Homo sapiens: one gene and its partner. The protein of the gene in region 2 purifies or fractionates together with the protein of the main gene of each other region. This does not show direct contact. Each region holds a gene or a part of one and is shown on either strand. Other genes may lie near its edges.

What was found. The genes of interacting proteins can lie anywhere in the genome.
Region 1: the proteins of ANKRD35 (region 2) and KRT7 purify together in Homo sapiens (affinity purification with mass spectrometry, with the first as the bait; one large-scale study listed by BioGRID). This does not show direct contact.

The regions. Positions count from the first base shown.
Region 1 is NC_000012.12:52,244,880-52,250,069, reverse strand, and holds the end of KRT7 (keratin, type II cytoskeletal 7), read right to left. Parts: intron 5,028-5,190; exon of another isoform or gene 4,659-5,027; coding exon 4,438-4,658; exon of another isoform or gene 3,602-4,437; intron 2,894-3,601; exon of another isoform or gene 2,622-2,893; intron 1,894-2,621; coding exon 1,859-1,893; intron 1,480-1,858; coding exon 1,310-1,479; 3' UTR 1,149-1,309; downstream 1-1,148.
Region 2 is NC_000001.11:145,865,312-145,870,214, forward strand, and holds the end of ANKRD35 (ankyrin repeat domain-containing protein 35), read right to left. Parts: intron 3,090-4,903; coding exon 3,000-3,089; intron 2,746-2,999; coding exon 2,680-2,745; intron 2,082-2,679; coding exon 2,019-2,081; 3' UTR 1,976-2,018; intron 1,455-1,975; 3' UTR 1,253-1,454; downstream 1-1,252.

The DNA of each region.
Region 1 (5,190 bases), on a different chromosome or scaffold from region 2:
CTGGCTCCCTCCCTCTCCCCTGTGCTTGTCTCAGCATTTCCAGTAAAGCTCCTGATCATATGCATTGTGCCCTGAGAGTCTCTCCTTCCTCTTGCCCACTTGGTCTTCTTAGTCGGGAGGGAGAGGGCCTGGATCTCCTGACACCTTGGGTGGGAACCCCATCACTGTGGCTGCTGGTCCACTTTTTCCACTCTCCACCCCAGCCCCCACCTCAGCATTTGAAAGTTCCCTGACCATAGGGTCAAATATACAGACTTCCTCCCAGAAGCCAACACATCCCACATAGCTCCCCCATCCACACCACCACCATCACCCCTGGGGTCCCAGACACAGAGACCTCCCTGTGGCTCCACAGTACCCATCATATGTGCTGCTGCCCATCAGGGACACATTTCCCCATGCATAGGCCCTGCCACAGAACACCTGCCACACTCACAGACACACAGACCTGTGTGTCGGGGACTCTGACATAGAAGCCCCCATCAAGCACTGACTTAACACAGATGTCCTTCCCCACTCCCATGGATCCAGATACAAACCCATCCCTCCACTAAGGTCCTAGGCACAGACCTGTTACCGGGGATCTAGACTCTAGGACCCTCCTCCCATGCACACACACACCTCCCCCCCACAACCACTACCTCCACAGAATTCAAGATGCAGAGGACCTCTCCAGGGCCCCAGGCCTGGCTGACCATGAGCCTGGCAGACCCAGCACCAGGAAGGGCTGAGGACGGCTGGCATGAAAGTTGGCTGGGCCACCCGAAACTGGAAGCTGGGGCAGCTGAACGTCTGTGGCCTCCTCACAAAAGGAATGTGCTCTGGCAGCTCTGGGCATGGGGGGAGGGAGGCAAACAGCCTTTCCACCCCCTTAGCAGGGCAGCCCTCCAAGGCCCAATTGCTGGCAGAGCCTGCATTTCCCCGTGGCTCTTCTGGGCTTCCTCAGGAGAATCTTTGGGATCAGCCCCAGACCTGGAGGCCAAGGCTCACCCTAGGTAAGCGTCCTGCTCCTTAGAGCAGCACCCCATCCCACCATGTGCCTTCTCAGTCTCCTGCACAAAAGGCTTCCTAGTCACCAGGGAGACCCTGCCTTCTCTAGTCCCGTCTTTTCCCCTGCCCAGCCTCATGAAGCCAGGATACCAGGCACGTGGATCACTCAGGCCTCAGAATGAGGCTGCTTTATTGGAAGCTATTCTGACATCACTTTCCAGACTGTCTCACTGTCTTGGGACCAGGCATGGGAGGCAGGGGTGGGAATCTTCTTGTGATTGTGGGTGGTGGCTGGAGGAGTGGAGTGGTGGGAGGCGGCTCAGTCGCGGGCACTCCTGCGACTGGCGGATGCGGTCCGGATGGAATAAGCCTTCAGGAGCCCAGGACCCGCACTGCTGGAGAAGCTCAGGGCATTGCTGCCCATGGTTCCCCCGAGGGTCAGCCCAATGCCACCGCCACTGCTACTGCCACCAGTGGAATTCATCACAGCTGGGAGAGAAAAGAGGAGGGCTCTCTTCAGCGTGAGGCTCCCTACCAGGGACCCCATCCCTTCACTGCACCCCACCCTCCTGCCCCAGCTGCCCCTCTCCCTCACCCCTGCCCCCCTCCATGGGCCAACCCAGAAGGAGCATCTGACAGGGGTAGGGCTGCTCCCCAGGTGCTCCTGGCCCCACCCTGCCCTCTTGTAGTGCTTCCCAGGCCATTGAGCCTGGCAGTATGTGCTCCAGGGGACCTGTCAATCCCTGTAGAAAGGAAGGAGTCTCCTGGCCCCTCCAGCAGGGCCCTGGGCCAGTCTGCCATTCTCTAGACCCAGCCCCATCTAAACAGCACAAGGGATGCTTCCCATGGGCCGCAGCCAAGGACTTACAGATATTCACGGCTCCCACTCCATCTCCAGCCAACCTGGGGGCAGAGGACAGACAGTGAGGACGGCTCTTTCCTAGCGTGGGAGGGAAGCGCTCTCAGCCCTCTCTCCTTCCAGGCCCCAAGCAGGATCATTGATTTTTCCTTCTTGCCCCACACTTCCAGCCTGCCTTCAGCCTTGTAAAAGGAGCGAGGAGGCATGCAGGAAGGGAGTGTTCACCTTGGCCCTTCTATCCACTGGCCACCTGACCCCAGGCAATGTCTCAGGGCCTCCATTTCCCACCTATGCCTTGGGCCCAACTACAGGACCAAATTCATGGGCCTGTGAGGGTTAAATGACATAATCTGTCTAAAGCCCTGAGCACCTGGGATTCGGTGAATGGTAGCTGTATGTGTTATTTATGTAGATGGCTGCCTTTCCTCACCGTATCATAAAATCCTAAAGGTGTCTGTGGCCTATTGATACTTTTATCCCCAGTATGAGGCCTGGAGAAGTCATTGCTTAATATATGTCAAAATAATTCGTGAATCGTTGACTGATTGAATGGGGCTCCAGCCAGGACTAAGGAAGGAGCAGGGAGTGGGGGTGGCTTTAAGCAGCCAGTGGGGCTGAAACAGGTCTTGCAGTAGAAATTAAAAATCCATTCGGGACAGCTGGCTATGTTTGTTTTGTGACTCACAGTCCCATTGTCACCAAGGCCTTGGCCTTGGGGATCAGTTTGCTCTGTGGGGGCAGGGAAGACCTCGCTTTGGTGGAGGGAATGAAGGGAGCCTCGCTGGCCTCTGCGGCCCCAAGCCCAGGAAGCAGGCAGAGCAAAGGCTGAGGGAAAGAGAGAGGTTTGCTGAAAGCTTCCAGGGGGCTTGCTTAAATGGCCCCTGCTGGTGCTGGGAGTTGCTGGCACTTGTGGGTGGGGAGAGGGAGCCAGGTTGCAGTCAGGCAGCAACTCGAAGAATTTCTGGTACGATGCCTAAGGAACTCAGACGGAAGAGGCCTGAATGTCCAAGGCTCTAGTGATCTGTGTGACTTTTCTCATTCTAAGTAAGTGGGGTTTTTTTGGTAACTTTGTATTCTTAAAGTAGGCCTCCCAGTTTGAATGAGTTTCTGGACCACAACTCTGATAAGTTAAGAGATAAAAGCAAGGTATCTACCTCCATATCCCCCCAGGGTTGGGGGAACCATATCCTCTCAGAGTACCCGGATCTAAGCCTGGTTACAGCAGCTCAGACTGAGATTAAGCTTTCAGAAGAGGATGTCTCTGCGTGCTGTGTGACCTTGGGCACACTACTGACCATTTCTGAGCTTCAGTCCCCTTTTCTTCCCATGGGAGGAAGCCAGATCAGGTACCACTCTAAGAGTCCCCCAACTCTGACTTCTATGACAACAGAAGGCCCAGGGTATGGGTTGTAGAGAATTTGGGGGCCCTGTGCCTGTGGGAGAGGCGAAAGCAGAGAGAGGCATCTTGGCTGGAGCTCCCTGTGCCCAGATCAGCTTCTGTGTTCCCAGAGACTTTTGGTGTTAATTCTTCTTCCCACAAAGAAGACTGGGTGCTAACCCAGGGAGAAGGCGGGTCAGCAGCAGGGGCAAAGCCCCTTCCTCCTCCTCTCCGCCTCCTACTCATACCCTGCGGCCCTGTGTCTCCTCTTCTCCTCCCAGCACCCAGGCCCTCGGCCCTAGCACCCCTTCACTCCCCATTCCCTTCCCTGCTGCTCCATTCATCCTCCGTCATGTCTCTCTCTGGCCCCTTAGGAATAATACTCAGAAAAGAATAAGTTCTTGTATACACTCAGCATTTTACAAATGTAAGTTACTGGTCTCTGGGGGTTTCCTCTGTGGATGTTTTGTCTCCTCCACCCTCTGCAACCTCCCTGAGGGCAGAAACATGTCCTACGTATTCTCTGTTGCCATGGTGTCTTATAACAAGCCAAGAATGAAGAGGTTGAGTTCGAACCCAACAATATGCCCATGAAGGCCCAGCTGCATAGACAGAGGTGGCATGCGGTTCATGAAGAATGTGCTATCAGACTCCCCCATTCCAGCCTCCTCTCTGACTGCAAGTGAGTCTGCAAATATCTCTGGGGACAAACAAAACGATCCCCCTCCACCACAGTCAGTTAGCCCCACATGATGTAGCACTTAGTTCTGTAGTGAGAAGCAGCCTGGCGTCCTGGAAGATCCTTGGAGCAGGAATCAGCACACCCTGACTGCACTCTGGCCCTATTCCCTCAATTAATGAAACTCAACCACAGCTTTCCCCTCTGGAGACTAAGGAATCAATCGTCTCTGACCTGACTACCTGAATGTGTGCTGAGGATCAAATATGATAACCCTAAGAAGCCGCACACACAAAGGGACTGTTATCATTTCAACCTGCCCACTGAGCTTCACACTCCATGGTCTTTCCTTCTAGAAGGTCATCTCATTGAAGGCAAAGAGGCAAGCATCAGCTCTGTGTTCCCTGCATCCCCACACCCAGTGCCCTGCAGAGGAGGGGCATACAGGAAATGCTTGTAAATGGATGAATGTCAAGCCCCAAACCCCACGGAGCCCTAGAAGCATCCCCTTTCCAGGTTCCTTGTCCTCACCGGCTCTCCTCGCCCTCCAGCAGCTTGCGGTAGGTGGCGATCTCGATGTCCAGGGCCAGCTTCACGCTCATGAGTTCCTGGTACTCACGCAGCTGCCGTGCCATATCCTGCTTGCCCCGCTGCAGGGCGGCTTCCAGCTCCTCCTGCTTGGCACGAGCATCCTTGAGCGCCAGCTCCCCACGCTCCTCAGCCTCGGCAATGGCGGCCTCCAACTTGGCACGCTGTGGGCAGCAGTGCAGCTGTAAGCTGGGGCTCACCAGTCTGCCTTCCTGCCTGCCCATCCTGCAGTGAGCACCCGGGCAACTTGCTTAAGGTGGCTTCATTGGCACCACCTACTCCCCCAAGTACCAGAGAATCCTAAGGGTTAAACACATAGGTTTGGATATCCAACGCCTATGTTCCAGTTCTGGCTCTGCCACTTACTAGCTGTGTGACCATGGATGAATCAACCCTGCTAAGCCAAAGTCCCCTCTTTTCTAAGAGAACATCAGGAGATTTTGAGGATGAAATGAGATAATATACAAGATGTCCGTGGCACAATGTCTAGCACACAGCAAGTGCTTAATAAATGCTATTGTGATCATTTTTAATGAATGCTATTATGATTTTCAAACCCCCAGTCCCCCAGCCCCAGCCCCCAGCTGCAGGAGCTCGAAGACCATGGGATCTTAATTGAGTCTCCAGATGTCAGGCAGCTGACAAAGACCAGAAACCACCTATAAAATAGGAACCAGTTGAGAGCAGGCGCAGAAT
Region 2 (4,903 bases):
AAAAAAAGTGCCAAAGCTTGGAAACAATCAAGATGTCCTTCAGTAGGTGAATGGATAAATAAATTGTGACACATTCAGACAATGGAATATTATTCGGTACTAAAAATAAGTGAGTTATCAAGCCATGGAAAGACATGGAGGAAATTTAAATGTATATTACTAACTCAAAGAAACCAGTCTGAAAAGGATACATACTGTATAATTCCAACTAAGCACAACTGGGGATGGGAGAAAGATCAGTGGTTGCCAGGGGTTAGCAGGGATGGGGAGATGAGCAGACAGAGCAAAGAGGATTCTTAGGGCAGCGAAACCACTGTGTATGATAATATAGAGATGGCCAGGCACAGTGGCTCATGCCTGTAATCCCCAGCACTTTGGGGAGCTGGGACAGGTGGATCGCTTGAGCCCAGGAGTTTGAGACCAGCCTGGGCAACATGGCAAAACTTGGTCTCTATTAAATATACAGAAAAATCAGCCAGTTGTGGTGGTGCTCGCCTGTAGCCCCAGCTACTTGGGAGGCTGAGTTGGAGGATTACTGGAGCCCAGGAAGTTGAGGCTGCAGTGAGTTATGATCATGCCACTGCACTCCAGCCTGGGCAGCAGAGTAAGACCCTGCCTCAAAACAAACAAACAAACAAACAAAAACAAAAAAAAGATAACATAATGATGGATATATGTCAATATAAATGTGTCCAAACCAACAGACTCTCTAACACCAAGAGTGAACCCTAATGTATACTATGAACTCTGAATGATAATAATGTGTCAATGTAGGTTCATCAATTATAACAAATAAACCACTCTGGTGAGGATATTGATAATTGGGGAGGCAGTGCCTGCATGGGGGCAGAGAATATATGAAAATCTCTGTACCTTCTGCTTAATTTTGTTGTGAACCTAAAACTGCTTTAAAAATAAAGTCTATTTGCAAAATAAAAAACAAAATCTACTTGTATCCCTGGGCATGGTGGCACATGCCTGTAATCCCAGCTACTTGGGAGGCTGAGGCACAAGAATCACTTGAGCCCAGGAGGCAGAGGTTGCAGTGAGCTGAGATCATGCCACTGCACTCCAGCCTGGGCGACAGAGCAAGACTCTGCCTCAAAAAAAAAATCTACTTGTAAAAAAATGTTTTTAAAAATAAAGACATACTGTTAATATTTGTTTCCAGAAAAAAAGAAAAGAATAAAGGGATGAAAGATATTCCTTTCCCCACTCCCCTTTAGAAAAAAAAAAATTACACTCAGCCCCGTCCTGCCTCATGCTTTATTTTCCATAGAGCTTGTTTCCATCCATACCTCCTCTGGTCTCATCCATGCTGATTCCAGGGTCCAGGTTCTCAGGTCTGAGGTCCATAATGTCAGGTGAAGCCCTGCCCATACCATTGCCTAGTGGCCAACACCCCCGCCCACCACAGCCTGATGAAGCCTCTGTCAACCAGGGTTTCTTATTCCCTGAAAGAAGAAATTCAAAGATGAAATGCACCCACTTCCATATCCTCAGTCTCCTCCCACTCATATCAACATGCTAAAAGGGACCCTCATCTATCTGGACTGGAGAAGGGGACTATCTGCATTGGGGTGGGGGGAGGTTTGGGGGATGACTGCTCTTTGAATGAATGGTATCAAAGTGAAGAGATTCTGGATTTTGTAGAGTCCTGCCCTAAGGAACAACTGTCTACCACTATCCTACCATCACTCATCTTTCACTGGCATCTCCCTACCCCAGACCCAACCCCTCTTTTCAGTCTCCATCTCATAAGTCAGCCCCCTTAGTCCACCTGCTCACTGATTCCTGACTCCACCCAGTGATTCTCCATGTTCTGTCTTCTCAGTCACCTCAAATGCTCTATGCCCCAAAAGGCTCCCCATTGTCAGCCACCACGGGGGCAAAAGGGACTAATTTCATTCCATACACCTTTCCCAAGCCCTTTCTCCCAAACTCCTTCCCTCATCACCCTTAACCCACAACTCACAACAGAGAATCTCGTATCCCTGAGGGCACACAGTGAGGCTGCCTCACTCCTCTTCCATGCTAAGGATTTGCAGCAGGATATTGTACACTTCATGTTCCATGTAACCCTGTAGATGTCAGGAAAGGAAGAAAAGGAGATGAAGAACAGAAAATGGAGAGAGAGAGGTGAGGGAGAGGTTCTGTGGTACAGTGGAAGGCTATTTATTTACTATATACCTTCACTTATAGTATTTAACTTCTCCATGGCTTTTTCCCTATCTTCACAGGGAAGATAATGATGTCTACTTTTCAGGATTGCTCTGAGGATTACAACCATGAATATGAAGCAAAGCACCAGGTACACAATAGGTGTTCATTCCATTCTTTGTAGTTATTATTCCTAACAAGGGAGCAAGACACCTACCTCTTCTTCCTTGTTTAGGACTAAGTGGCTCCAGGAGGAGACTGAGAAAGGGTATTGGGGACAGGAAAAGTCCTTACTATAGGCCAGAGAATTGAAACAGAGGGGGAAACACCTCTCCTTCTCACATTCATGCACAACCTCTCTTGATCTACCAAATGAGATCAGAGACCTAGCACTGGATCCAGCTTTCCGAGAAACAGCAAGTGTGTACAGGGACCCTGGAGAAGAGAGAGGGACCCTAAATGCAATACCCTATACTCAGCTTTATGTCTATACCTCCCTCAAAACTCCACCATGCTCACCCGAGCAGCATTCAGTAGATGATTCCTGTAGGTGGAGATGATCTCTTCATGGTTCTTCTGGGAATCCTGGGAATGAACATCAATGGGAAGTCACATGTCCACCCTCAGTCACCCAAGCATGAGGAGCAACACAATGAAGTGGTCAGCAGTACCAGGTGGGCTCGTTGGCCCATCACTGGCCCATCCTGGACCACTGCCTAGCCAGGCCTCTGTAATTCCTAGAATGTCTCCCTCAGTAATTCCTAGAATGTCTCCCACATATACATCACTTCCACTGCTGACCTTCTTCTCCAGCACCATCCCTGACAGCCAAAACATACCTGCAGCTGCAGGGCAAGGCGAGCATTTTCTCCCCGAATTGCTAGAACCTCTTCTGAAAGCTGCTCCAGCTTCTTCAACAACTCCTTGATCTGAGGCCAAGAGGAAAGAGGCAACCAATGAGGCTCCAAGTCATTTCTCCCACAAGGGTCAAGGTCAGCTTCCTTTTACTGAGTATTTAATATGTGCCAATTTTATACAAATTGTCTCATTTAACACTCAAAACAGCTTTTCTTCTGTGTGGTGTTCACTAAAAGTAGGAATAACAACGTAAAAGCTAATTAAGGTCACAAACTTCGGTGAAACCCTTAAAAGTCCAAATCTTTTTGATATTGTGAACTATACCCCTTCCAGTTTAGTTTCTTCTGGACTTTCCTTACTTGTCAGTTACCTTTTAAAATTTGCACACATTATGATTAAAAGTGGGCCTCTACTGTGATGATTCCTATTTCCTCTCATGTTTTAAAGTGCAAACTAACATTTAAGTGAACATTAGCATCAAGTAGTGCAGACATTTGTATGCATTTCCTTGATTCAATTTGTGACCTTACCAGTTCTGAATTGGAATTGCCCCATTTCGTAGATAAAGGAAACTAACTATATTGCTGCACTTTTAAGTTTTCAAAACAGTGTTTAAAAATTGCATTGTTTTTATTTTTTTAAAACTCAGTTTAAAAAGACTAAAATGTTCTTTCAAAAGAGGCATCTAAATGTGTTCCTAATTTTGTATATGGGCTTAGGTTTTGTAACCAATTAAAAAAAAAGCTGCTATCCAATATGATAAAACATTGAAAACTTAAAAAAATTTAAAAAAAAAACAGCTTTTCTTCCGGGAGGAACAATACTTCTCTGAAGGAAGTTTGTTTTTTTGTTTTTTTTTGTTTGTTTGTTTTTTAGACTGAGTCTTGCTCTGTCACCCAGGCTAGAGTGCAGTGACACCATCTGCTCACTGCAACATCTGCCTCCAGGTTCAAGTGATTCTCCTGCCTCAGCCTCCCAAGAAGCTGGGATTACAGGCATGCGCCACCACACTCAGATAATTTTTGTATTTTTAGTAGAGGCGGGGTTTCACTACGTTGGCCAGGCTGGTCTCGAACTCCTGACCTCAGGTGATCCGCCCACCTCAGCCTCCTAAAGTGCTGGGATTACAGGTGTGAGCCACTGCGCCCAGCCTGTTTTGTGTTTGGAGGCAGGGTCTCACCTGCCACCCAGGCTGGAGTGCAGTGATGTGATCTCAGCTCACTGCAACCTCTAAATCCTGGGCTCAAGCCAACCTCAGCCTCCTGAGTAGCACAGGAACAGGCACATGCCACCATACTCAGCTAATTTTTGTATTTTTTTGTAGAGTTGGGGTTTTGCCATGTTGTCCAGGCTGGTCTCAAACTCGTGGGCTCAGGCGATCCATCCACCTTGGCCTCCCAAAGTGCTGGGATTACAGGCATGAGCCACTGTGCTCCGCCTGAGGGAAGTATTATAATCTACGTTTTGTAGATAAAGAGACTAAATTAAGTAATTTGTCAAAATCACACAGCTAATAAGTGATGAAATCATGATTTGAACCACAATCTCTTTGACTCCTTGGCCGATGCTCTTAACTTGGTATCAGATCCTAACCTACTCCTGGCTACTGACCACTAAGGGAAATGGAGATGAGTCCTTATGGCTTATTGAGGCAGAGGCACAAATGCAGTTAATGGTAACTAGCAGTAATAGGAATAGTGGTAGTAGGAATAATGATAGCTACCTTTTACTGAGTACTTACCATGGGCCAAGAGTTCCAAATTTTTTTTTTTTTTTTTTGAGGCAGAATCTGGCTCTGTCGCCCAGGCTGGAGTGCAGTGGCGCGATCTCAGCTCACTGCAAGCTCCACGTCCCGGGCTCACACCATTCTCCTGCCTCAGCCTCT